Regions from separate parts of the Homo sapiens genome. Here region 2 is linked to region 1. Evidence: fine-mapped expression QTL. Tissue or cell type: whole blood. Region 1 holds a variant in brackets; the other region holds the start of a gene. All regions are shown on one strand. Distances are from middle to middle. Region 1 overlaps SPI1 (Spi-1 proto-oncogene). Region 2 holds the start of MYBPC3 (myosin binding protein C3).

The links. PIP is the estimated chance that this variant, and not a neighbour inherited with it, causes the effect.
Region 2: MYBPC3 starts here. The variant in region 1 is fine-mapped to the expression of MYBPC3 in whole blood (INTERVAL, PIP 0.94).

The regions. Positions count from the first base shown.
Region 1 is chr11:47,372,838-47,378,201 of GRCh38, forward strand. It overlaps SPI1 (Spi-1 proto-oncogene), which reads right to left. Exons shown (of 5, transcript NM_003120.3): 2 at 2,796-2,892. Among named protein-coding and RNA genes, the nearest start is that of SPI1, 3.0 kb to the right of the region's middle. RefSeq lists enhancers at 1,329-1,830, 4,264-4,463, 5,134-5,183, 5,357-5,364. The variant G/A (reference allele first, on the strand shown) is at 2,965.
Region 2 is chr11:47,350,146-47,355,478 of GRCh38, forward strand. MYBPC3 (myosin binding protein C3) reads right to left here and starts at 2,557. Exons shown (of 35, transcript NM_000256.3): 1 at 2,478-2,557; 2 at 1,094-1,360; 3 at 357-470. The coding sequence starts at 2,502. It overlaps SPI1 (Spi-1 proto-oncogene), which reads right to left. Exons shown (of 5, transcript NM_003120.3): 5 at 4,715-5,333. The coding sequence ends at 5,082. RefSeq lists enhancers at 219-1,200, 1,201-2,181.

The DNA of each region.
Region 1 (5,364 bases):
GCTGTCAGTTTTATAAATGGGGAAATAGGGACTCAGAAAGGTTATGTTACTTGCCCCAAGTTTTCACAGCTGGTAAGTGATGGAGCCAGGGCTGGGCCAAAGCTTTTTCACTAAGCTTCAGTACCTAAAAATGTGGACAAAGAGGACGTGCAGGAATTGACAGAAGTGTGTGGGGGTCTCTATGGTTGAGTCTTCAGACGATACCTTCCAGCGGGTATAAAAAGGGACAGCCCGGCCGGGCGCAGTGGCTCACGCCTGTAATCCCAGCACTTTGGGAGGCTGAGGCAGGCGGATCACCAGGTCAGGAGTTCGAGACCAGCCTGGCCAACATAGTGAAACCCTGTCTCTACTAAAAATACAAAAAATTAGCTGAGCGTGGTGGCAGGCGCCTGTAATCCTAGCTACTTGGGAGGCTGAGGCAGGAGAATCGCTTGAATCCGGGAGGCGGAGGTTGCAGTGAGCCAAGATTGTGCCACTGCACACCAGCCCGGGCGACAGTACGAGACTCCGTATCAAAAAAAAGGGACAGACTGGGCGCGGTGGTTCACACCTGTAATCCCAGCACTTTGGGAGGCCGAGGCAAGTGGATCACTTGAGGTCAGGAGTTTGAGAGCAGCCTGGCCAACATGGTAAAACCTCATCTCTACTAAAAATACAAAAATTAGCCAGGCATGGTAGTGCACGATTGTAATCCTAGCTACTTGGGATGTTGAGGCAAGAGAATCGCTTGGACCCAGGAGGCGGAGGTTGCAGTGAGCCAAGATTGGGCCACTGCGCTCTAGCCTGGGCAACAGAGCAAGACTGTCCTAAAAAAAAAAAAAAAAGAAAAGGACAGCCCAAATGCCCTGATTGGCAGTGATTAAGAGTGGGACAGAGCCAAGGCCGAGGACACCTGGGAACACTGGTGGAGTCTCTGGAGGAACTAGGGGTTCATGACCAACATGGGGTGCCCAGGCATCCAATCAGGAGTCATTCCTAGAGTCCCACCTGAGATATAAGGAACCTGCTTGGACCCTGAGCCACGAAAACACATGCTTTCTCTAAAGTGCTCACTCCATCAGGCCCAGCCCCAGGCTCACTGGTTTCCAGCTATGTGGGCAGCGCCCTCATATTACAGGAAGGAAAACTGAGGCTGCAAAAGGCCCAAAGGAAACGCACCCAAGCCCAGTGAACTGAAGAGGGATTGGGCCAGGGAGAATGCGTCCTTGTTGGAGGAGGCCTGACAGCACTGTCTGTGGTGACCCGAGCCACCAGGGGGCGCCTGTCCCAGGGCCCAGCGGGACCTCCTGGAGTCCTGGAACCGCTTGGGAAGGTGGGTGCGTGGTCTCTGGGTCCCCCAGACCGGGCTCTTCACTCTGGTAGGGAGAGCTGGGGATGGAGTTGGGGGAGGGGGACTTTCTCTCTACATTGCCTGGGTTTCCCACCAAGAGGATGTGTTTTTTACATAATTACAAATAAGCTTGAAGGAATTAAAAAGGATATTTTAAAGGCTTTCTAGCCCTGAAAGATTCTAAAAGATGCCTGTGCGTTCCCAGCTGTGGCCTGGAGGCATATCCGCCTACCCCTGGGATATGGCTTCCAGTCTGAGTTCCGGATGAATCTGGGGCCCTAAATGTGGACCAGGCACATGTGGATCCCTAGCTGGGCCCATCAGGTTTAGACCGCCACAGGTGCATCTGCAGAATGGAGCTACAGGCATGACTGGCCGCAGGGGTGGCCTTCAGGAGTGACACCTTCCTAGGCTGTGGGCCTCTGCCCTCTGAGGTGCAGACACCCCAGTCGCTGGTCTGCCCGGGTCCCAGACGCCCTGAGGAATTCCCCAGTGACGACTCACCCACTGACTAGGCCACCTCGCTTTGGGTCAGGGATGTCTACATCAATAAGCCAAGATCCACTTTGGGCAACCTCCCGCAGCCCCCTGCTCAGGTCCCAGGCACCTAATGCCTCTCTCCCATCCCCTGAATTTGCTCCAGGACGGAGGCTGGGCTATGGGGCAGACAGTCAGACCCAGAAGGACTGGACAGACAGAAGGACACCCTGGCCCAGGCCTCTTCCTCCCACTTCAGCAAACTGGGGGCCTCGGCCTCTGCTGAACAAGAGGTTCTCATAGGTTTTCCTTCGGCCCAGCAGTTCCCAATTAGGGGTGATTTTGCCTCCCGGGGGGATCTGCCAATGGGTGGAGACATTTTTGGTTGTCATGATTGGCCATGGCCCTGGCATGTGGTAGGTAGAAGCAAGGATGCCACTAAGCTTCCTACGGTACCCGGGACAGCCCACCCAGGAATCATCCCACCCAAAATGTCAGCAGTGCCACAGTTAGGAAACCCTGCCAACCACACATGGCAGGAAGTGCGGATGTGCCGGCGGGGAGTTTGGGACAGAGAGTGACGAGAACAGAGAGGAGGAGGTGGGTAGTTAGGCAGGGGCAGAAAAAAAAGCACAGGACCTGGAGCGGACAGACCTGGGTTCCACCCAGCAGCCGTGTGACCTTGTGCAAGTCTCCTAGCACCCTAAGCCTGTTTCCTTGTTTATAAAGAAGACCACAAGGACAGAACCAGCAGATAACCATGGAAGAAATGAACCCCGCACCTTGACACACTGCAGAGGCTCCATAATGGAGGCTCAGGTGTGGGGGTGCAGCGATGATGCTGCAGTTCACTGCCTTTGAGAGCAAACTTGATCTGATTCTCAGAATTCCAAAGAAGTCCTGGGAATCATTTATTCTTTTTCTCTCTCCAGACCCCAGGAGCCCAGGCTGGGCTGGGGGATGGGGGCGTGGCAGGCCCCGTACTCACCGCTATGGCTCTCCCCATCACTGCTGAGATAGGGGTAATACTCGTGCGTTTGGCGTTGGTATAGATCCGTGTCATAGGGCACCAGGTCTTCTGATGGCTGCTGAGAGAGGAGGTGTCAGGGCCTGCACCATGGTGGGAGACCCCAGCCAGGCCTGCAGCACCCCCGCAC[G/A]CTGGGTCCCCATCACCTTCCCTGGCTCAGTGGCTGCGTTGGACCTACAGCCCTCCCTCTGCCTGGAACTGGGACAGAGAGTGGGGCAGGGGACCCAGAAGGCCTGAAAAGGGGTGACAGGGACCTTGGGGGTGAGAGGTCAGAAGAGGACCAGGGTCCCCCTCTGCTGGGCTACTCCCCATAGCCACCTCACGCTCACACTCACACTCACGCCTGTGTGCCCCCATCCTCATCCCACACACCTCTCCTGGTCACACTGATGCACATGTCCACACGATCCCTGTGTCACCCTCACACTCATAATCCCACACGAGGACTCACTCTCACAGCCCCTACCCACCCCCATGCAGGCGCCTGCACACTATCCCTCACACACACATCTTCATACCCACTCAGAGGTCACCCACCTCACAGAGACATTGTACACTCAGCTCATGCACACACGCAGAGTCTCCTTGATTGACACTCACATGACACCACGTTCCAGCCATCAACACACACACTCACACCCCCAGAGCCACTCACATTCCACCTGCACACTCAACCGCACAGCACACACTTGCCTGCCCAGCCCCACTCTCACAGCCTATGCCTCTCACACAGCCTGGGCAAGAGTGGCACCACAATGACCCTCCACACTGACGGTTGGTGCAGGGGTCACCCAGGCAGACTTAGGGGCCGAGCGCATGGAGGGCCTTGATCCCCTCACTCTCCCTCCTGAGTCCTCCCTATCCTCCTCCTTCCCTCCTCACTGCATCCCCCTCCCCGTCTCCTTTGCTTCCTCCTCCCCCTCCTCACTCCCCTCTGTCCTCCTTTTCTTCCCCCTCTTCCCTGTCCTCCTTCTTTCCTCCCACCTTCCTCCCTCCTCCCTGTCCTCCTCCCCCTACTGGCACAGACACAGGGCCGTGCACACCCAGGAGCCTTCCCAACAGTCATCAGGCCTCCCCGCCCCCGCAGCGTGTGGCCCAGGATTGCATAACAGTCACTGTGGCCCTTAGGGCTGGGCTTGGGGGACCGGGGCTGCCTTGGGAGCCCACCCTACCAGGAGACACTCAGAGTGACCCTGGAGCTTGCAGAGAGGGCTGGGGGTGCCTAGGGATGGCCCAAGGAGCTCTGCCACCCATCTAGCTCCACCTGGAGTTCAGAATTGAGAGGTCAGGGATCAGAGACAGTGGGCCTGTGGCTTTCTTGAGGCAGAATTGGCTCTTTCTGAGACAACCTCCGTCACCCTCTGCCTGGGCCGCCCACTTCGTGTTCCCAGGTGGGAAGGGGTGTCGGTGTGGATGCCACAGCAGGCTGGCTGGTCCTGCCTGGTCCTGCCTGTGGCTGGCCAAGTGAGGAGGCCAGGAGCCCAGCACTGAGCCTGCCCCTCTGGGTTTCCAGGTAGTACAGCCTCGCTGCAGGATGTCAGCCCGGCTCTGGTCGGGTTGGTGTGATGTCAGGCCTGGGGTGCCTCCCAGCCTCCTGGGGTGGCTCTGAGCCAGGGCATAGTGGGGGAAGGGAGCTGCCTCTAGACCAGGAAAGTGGATTCAGGTGGGCAGCCTGCCAAGCCCTTCCCGGCTCCCCTCAAGCCTCCTCACTCCTGAGAGGTCATGGGGTGGGAAAAGGGAGAAGGGTCCTTTCCGAGGGACCCTGGTCTGACACCTGCCTAAGGCTGCAACTGTCACTGAGAGTGAGGAGCAGTGGCGATCTGCCCTTCTCTTCTCGGGGTCCCCTGGGGCTCCCACTTCTTCACCCCCAAGACCCAGTCCCTGTCCTTGTCCCAGCCTCAGCCCCCATTCTCACTTATCACATGCTCACCCCAGGTCCCACCCAGCCCCAATCTCAGTCCTGGCCTTGTCCCAGCCCTGTCCCCTGCCGCGCCTCTCCCTGAACTCCAGCCCTGGGGCCAGCCCTAACTGCACTGTCTCAGCTCCACTCCTGGCTCCTTTCCAGCACCAGTCCCTGTCTCCTGTGGGTACCCCTGTGGGCCCATGGCCCTGACCCTTTGGTCAACAATCATGTCCTCTGTGCCAGGCCCCAGACTGGGCGTTGGGGACCCAGAGTTCCATCAGCTTTGGTTTCCAGGAGCCCCAAGGCCATGGGCCAAGACTTCTGCCCATTGCCTCCTGCCTTCAACCCCTTCCCATCCAGGGGACCGGCCTCCCCCAAGCCAGTCCCCCCATCTCCCTCCTCTACCTCTCTACCACCGCCTTCACCATCCTCAGCCCAGCACCCTCCCCAGGAGCCCCGGCCTCCGCCTGCCACCCGAGCCCTGTCTATAAATAACTGTTCAGGCCCCACCGATCACAGCCCCACCGTGGGCCTGGCCTCAGCCCGCCAGGGCATGCTCCGAGGAAGCCAATGGCCCCCTCGCTGGGTCTCAGGCCAGGAGTTCCAGGGAGGAAACCCTGACTTCCC
Region 2 (5,333 bases), 23 kb before region 1:
TGGAGTCTTGCTCTGTCACCCAGGCTGGAGTGCAGAGGCACAATCTCGGCTCACTGCAAGCTCCGCCTCCCAGGTTCACACCATTCTCCTGCCTCAGCCTCCCAAGTTAGCTGGGACCGCAGGTGCCCGCCACCACGCCCGGCTAATTTTTTTGTATTTTTAGTAGAGATGGGGTTTCATCATGTTAGCCAGGATGGTCTCAATCTCCTGACCTCATGATCCGCCCACCTCGGCCTCCCAAAGTACTGGGGATTATAGGCCTGAGCCACCGCACCTGGCCCAGCAAAGGCTTTTGAGACCTGCCCTGGACACGCCCTACCCACGGATCCTGCCCCTCCCTGCCCAGCCCCTCTCACCTTTGGGACTTGGGGCACTTTCTCCCAGCTCAGCGGCTGGGGCCGGGGCTTCTCCAGGGGCTCCAGTGGCCTCAGCAGGGGCAGGGGCAGGGGCCAGCATGGGCTCTGCCTTCTCTGGAGGGGATCAGATGGGAGTCGTGGTGCAGCCACTAACCAGAGACCCCTCCACCCTCTCTCTCCTGAGCATTGGACCCATGAGCCCGCTGTGGATGAGGAAAGTCTGCCATGGCTGTCCTCCCGCTGCCTGGGCCCCTCAGAGGCAGCTCATGCTGAGCTGGAGAGCCAGCCTGCCTCTCACATTCTCCTCCCCGTCCCAGGCCATCAGTTCCCATGTCCTCTGCATCTGCCCTGAACAGCTCCAGGTCCATCCCTGCTCTGCCCCAGCCTTAGAGCAGCCCCTCAGACTGGGCTGCACTCCCCTCATCCACAGCTCCTGGGGCTTCCCGGCCGTCTGTGCAGGGTCATCTCCCCAGGGAGGTCTGCAGGGGGAGAGTGGGGTTGTGTCTTGTTCATCTCTCCCACCTACCCCATGGCTGGAACAAGCCAGGATGGCACATGGGGGTACTCAGAGAGGTCATGTGCAGAAAAGGGGGAAAGGGCGTTCCTGGCGGGGGGCACAGCCACAGCAAAGGCAAGAAAGTGTGAAAGCACCTCCTGTTCCCTGGATGGATGGAGAGTCGCTGGGCTGCCCCTCCCCCAGCAGCCCAAACCTCAGGGAAGGCTGATCAGGATCTTACCTGCCTCTATGACCTTGAGGTCGAACTTGACCTTGGAGGAGCCAGCAATGACTGCGTAAGATCCCTGGTCGGCAGGGCCCACTTCCCGCACTGTCAGCGTATGCCGTGTGCCCTCTGTGGCCAGGCCGTACTTGTTGCTGGCGCTGATGTCACTGCCTCCGCGCTGCCAGCGCACCTTCACTCCTGCCCGCTCTGTCTCGGCCTCGAACACGGCAGGGCTGCCTGCGGCCACTTCCACTGACCGTGGCTTCTTGCTAAAAGCTGAGACTGAAGGGCCAGGTGGAGGCTACAGCGGCCCCTGGTTGGAGCGTGCACCCCGCCCCTGCAGCCCCTCTCAGTAAATACTGTGCTAGCACTTTCTATGCATCCCCTCACGTAATACTCTACCAGTTCTCTGAGGTAGTTGCAGTTATTCTGTTCATTTCTCAGAGGAGGACACTGAGGCTCAGAGAAGCTAAGCGGCTCCTCCAAGATCACACAGCTAGCAGTCGGGAGAGCCAGGGCTGTGGTCCTGACCTCCCAACAAGACTTTTTCTGCATGTGTCCACTTTCCCTGCTTGGAGACACCCGTGATGAACCCAGCTCCCTTTCCCCCAACCATTTCGGGCCCTTGGCAGGGGGCGGGGAAGTCTGCCTACTTGGAATGTGGCCAAATTTGTCCTCCAAGGACCTCAGGCTGGGTATCAGCAACTGAGATAAAGCTGGCCTGGGAGGGCGCTGGGGGATGGGGACCTGGATCTCTGCCCTGGACAACCTTCATAAGGGCACAGCCCAGGCCCAGGTCCCTGGGCTGTGATTTTCCCTGCCCTTGGCCTGGGTTCAGGGGCTCCTGACTGTCCTCTCTCAGAGAAGAGGGGCTGTGTCACCCTCAACATGGGGGCCACACCGTACAGGCTCATGAAGCAGATAATGTCACAGCCAGGAGGAACCAACCCAATGCCACCACCACCCCCGGCACCCCAGGTTGGGAGACTGAGACCCATAGTGGGTAGAGACTGGTCTGAAGGCATGCCGTGAGCCTGGCTCAGCTCCATACTAAACGTGGGCTCTGTCCGCGGGGAACCTTGCTGTGGAAGGTGAAGGCAATGGGACAGGGAAGGGGTCCCTTTGCATTCTCAGAATGGGTTGACCCCGGGTGCTTCCTGTCTTGGCTGTGTCCCCTCTCTGCGTCCCTGACCTTGGGTTTACCTTCACCTCTCATCAGAGGGATGGGAAAAAGAAACCGAGAATCAAAAAAGGACCCTGGAGGACTGGCTGCCCCTGTCCTGGGGCTCAGAGGCCACGTCCTCGTCAACCCCCTCAAGAACTCCCTCCTAGCCCTGCTCCCCAATTGTAGACACCCCCCTGCTCCCACACTTAGACCCAACCCCAGTCCTAAAGCTACCTGGCTTCTTCCCCGGCTCAGGCATCCTGAGAGACGTCACACCAGGCACGAAGCAGGCACAGGTCACCCAAAGAGGGACTGAGTGGGGTCCTGTCCTTCCCACTATATATGGGGACCTCCCCCCTCCCCAGGCTCTGCTTATCTGCCTCCTGTCCAGCCACCTGCTAAATATAGATGAATTCCAGAGAGCTGAGGTCTCTCCAGGGAGAAGGTAGGGCCACATTGTCCCTGGCTGGCTCCTGTCCCTTCCCCCCTCACCCCCCGCAGCACAATTCTGCCTCCCCAACCTTTGGCAAGCCTCAGGGGTACTCCAAGCCCCGTGTGTGTCCCTCTTACAGCAAATTGTACGGTGGGAGCATGCTGGGCCCATAACCCTAAGGCTAACGGGTCAGGAGCATCCTCGCAGGCAGTTCAGGCAGTGGTCATGTCCACAGACCCTGGGGCCAGGGTGTCTCTGAGTCCTAGCACTGCCATCTCTTTAATCTCAAAGCACCTGGTTTCCTCATCTGTAAAGCGGGGTGGGTGAAAGCAGCACCCACTGCACAGGATTGTCACACGTATGAAGTGGGTTTATAATTTTAAAAATGTTAGGCCGGGTGTGGTGGCTCATCTGTAATCCCAGCACTTTGGGAGGCCGAGGCAGGCAGATTATTTGAGGCCAGGAGTTTGAGACCAGCCTGGGCAACATGGCAAAACCCCATCTCTACTAAAAAAATAAAAAATAAAATAAATACACACACACACACAAATTAGCCAGGTGTGGTGGTGTGGACCTGTAGTATCAGCTACCCAGGAGGCTGAGGTGGGAGGATCGCTTGAGTCCAAGGAGTTCCGGGCTGCAGTGAGCCAAAATCGCACCACTGCACTGCAGCCTGGGTGACAGAGTGATAATAATAATAAAAATATTATTTATTATTATTTTTTATTATTAATATCTCAAAGAATAATAATAAAAAAATAAAAATGGGCTGGGCGAAGTGGCTCACACCTGTAATCCCAGCACTTTGGGAGGCTGAGGCGGGCAGATCACTTGAGCTCAGGAGTTCGAGACCAGCCTGGGCAACATGATGAAACCCCATCTGTACAAAAAATACAAAAATCAGTCAGGCATGTGACGCACACCTGTAGTCCCAGATGCTCGGGAGGCTGAGGCAGGAGAATCACTTGAGCCCGGGGGGTCAGGGCTGCAGTGAGCCATGTTCGTGCCACTGCACTCCAGCCTGGGCAACAAAGTAAGACCCTGTCTCAAAAAAAAAAAAATAAAAATAGAAGAATGAAGACACAACACCATTTTGCCTTCTCTTGTGGCCCTGCAGTAGGACTAGGGAGCTGCAGGGTTGGGCTGCAGTGAGCCCTCTGGGGTTGAGGAGGTGTGGGGCGGGTATTTGTCCCTACGATAATGGCCCCAGAATCTGGGTTCCCTAAGGTCTTTGACAGCGTTGGGAAGTCCCTCACTCCCAGGCTGTCTACTGCCACTACTTGCTACCGTCTGGAGGAAAACACAGGACTTACAGGCTTCTCCGCTCAGCTTGGTCTGTTTCTCCCCTGCTGTGGCTAGGAGCTAGAAAGCAAATAGAACCTGGGGGTCCCACCAGGGATTCACTTGGGTCTAAAGTCCTGCTGGGCGTGCAGCTCGTGAGAACCCTTTGCGGCCCACAGGAGCTTTGGGGCTTAATTCCTGTCCTCGGAATGCTGAAGAGTATCCTCTTCCAGATAAGCAAGGCCTCCCACTCCATGTTGACGTGTCGGGACAGACCTGGAGTGTGATCCAACTTGGCCACTCAACGGCTGTGACCTTGGGGAAATAATTTGACCTCTACAAGCCTCAGTTTCCCATTCTATAAAATGGAGTGATATTAGACTCCACATCTCAAGGTTGGCAGATACTAATTGACCAGAATATCAAATGTTGTTGCTGGTCATGGTCATCATCATCATCATCATCATCATCATGAGTTCAAACCTCATCAAGGCTTAAAAACAACAACTATCAGGAGTAGAGAGCTTTTAAATAGGATCTGCTCTCCTAATCACAATTGAGGACTTGTTCTTTCCACCAAACTCTAACTCCTGTTCAGGCGCTCTGTGTCATTGGTCCTCATGTTCCCAGGGTCCAGCATTGGGTACAGTCCTCGGTAAACACCCGATGGACAAATGACAAAAAGAGACGTCGCAGCACACAGGGGCCAAAAGAGATACACAACAAATTTTAAAAGAGACTCTGTGCTGCAAGAGGATGGATTGAGAATAACTTTACTTGTTTTTTGGGAGGAGGTTAATGGGTGGGAGGGGTGAGAGGGGAGATCTGATTTACATACGGACTTGAGACTCCCAAGGCAGTACCCCGGGTCGTCCTCTGCAAGGTTGCCCCGGTGGGGTCTGACGCCCAGCTGGCGTCCGGGAGCCGGGGTGGAGTCCTGGAGGGAGGCGAAGCGGGATGTGGAGGGGGCCTGGAGTGGGGGGAGGGGGCGGGTGAGGCGAGGCCCGGCCCGCCACAGTCCTGCCTCTGGGCCCCGGGAGCGTCCTCCCTGTGTCCGGGCCGGGCGAGGGCTTAATGCTATGGCCAGCGGGGAGGCCTGGCGGGGCCCGGCGGGGGCTGCGGGCTCAGTGGGGCGGGTGGCGCCGCTCGGCCAGGCCCCCGCGGCCCAGCACTTCGCCGCTGAACTGGTAGGTGAGCTTCTTCTTCACCTTCTTGACCTCGCCCGTCTTGCCGTAGTTGCGCAGCGCGCGCGCCATCTTCTGGTAGGTCATCTTCTTGCGGTTGCCCTTCTGGATGCCCCAGCGGTGCGCCAGCGCCTCCTTGTGCTTGGACGAGAACTGGAAGGTGCCCTTGTCCTTGTCCACCCACCAGATGCT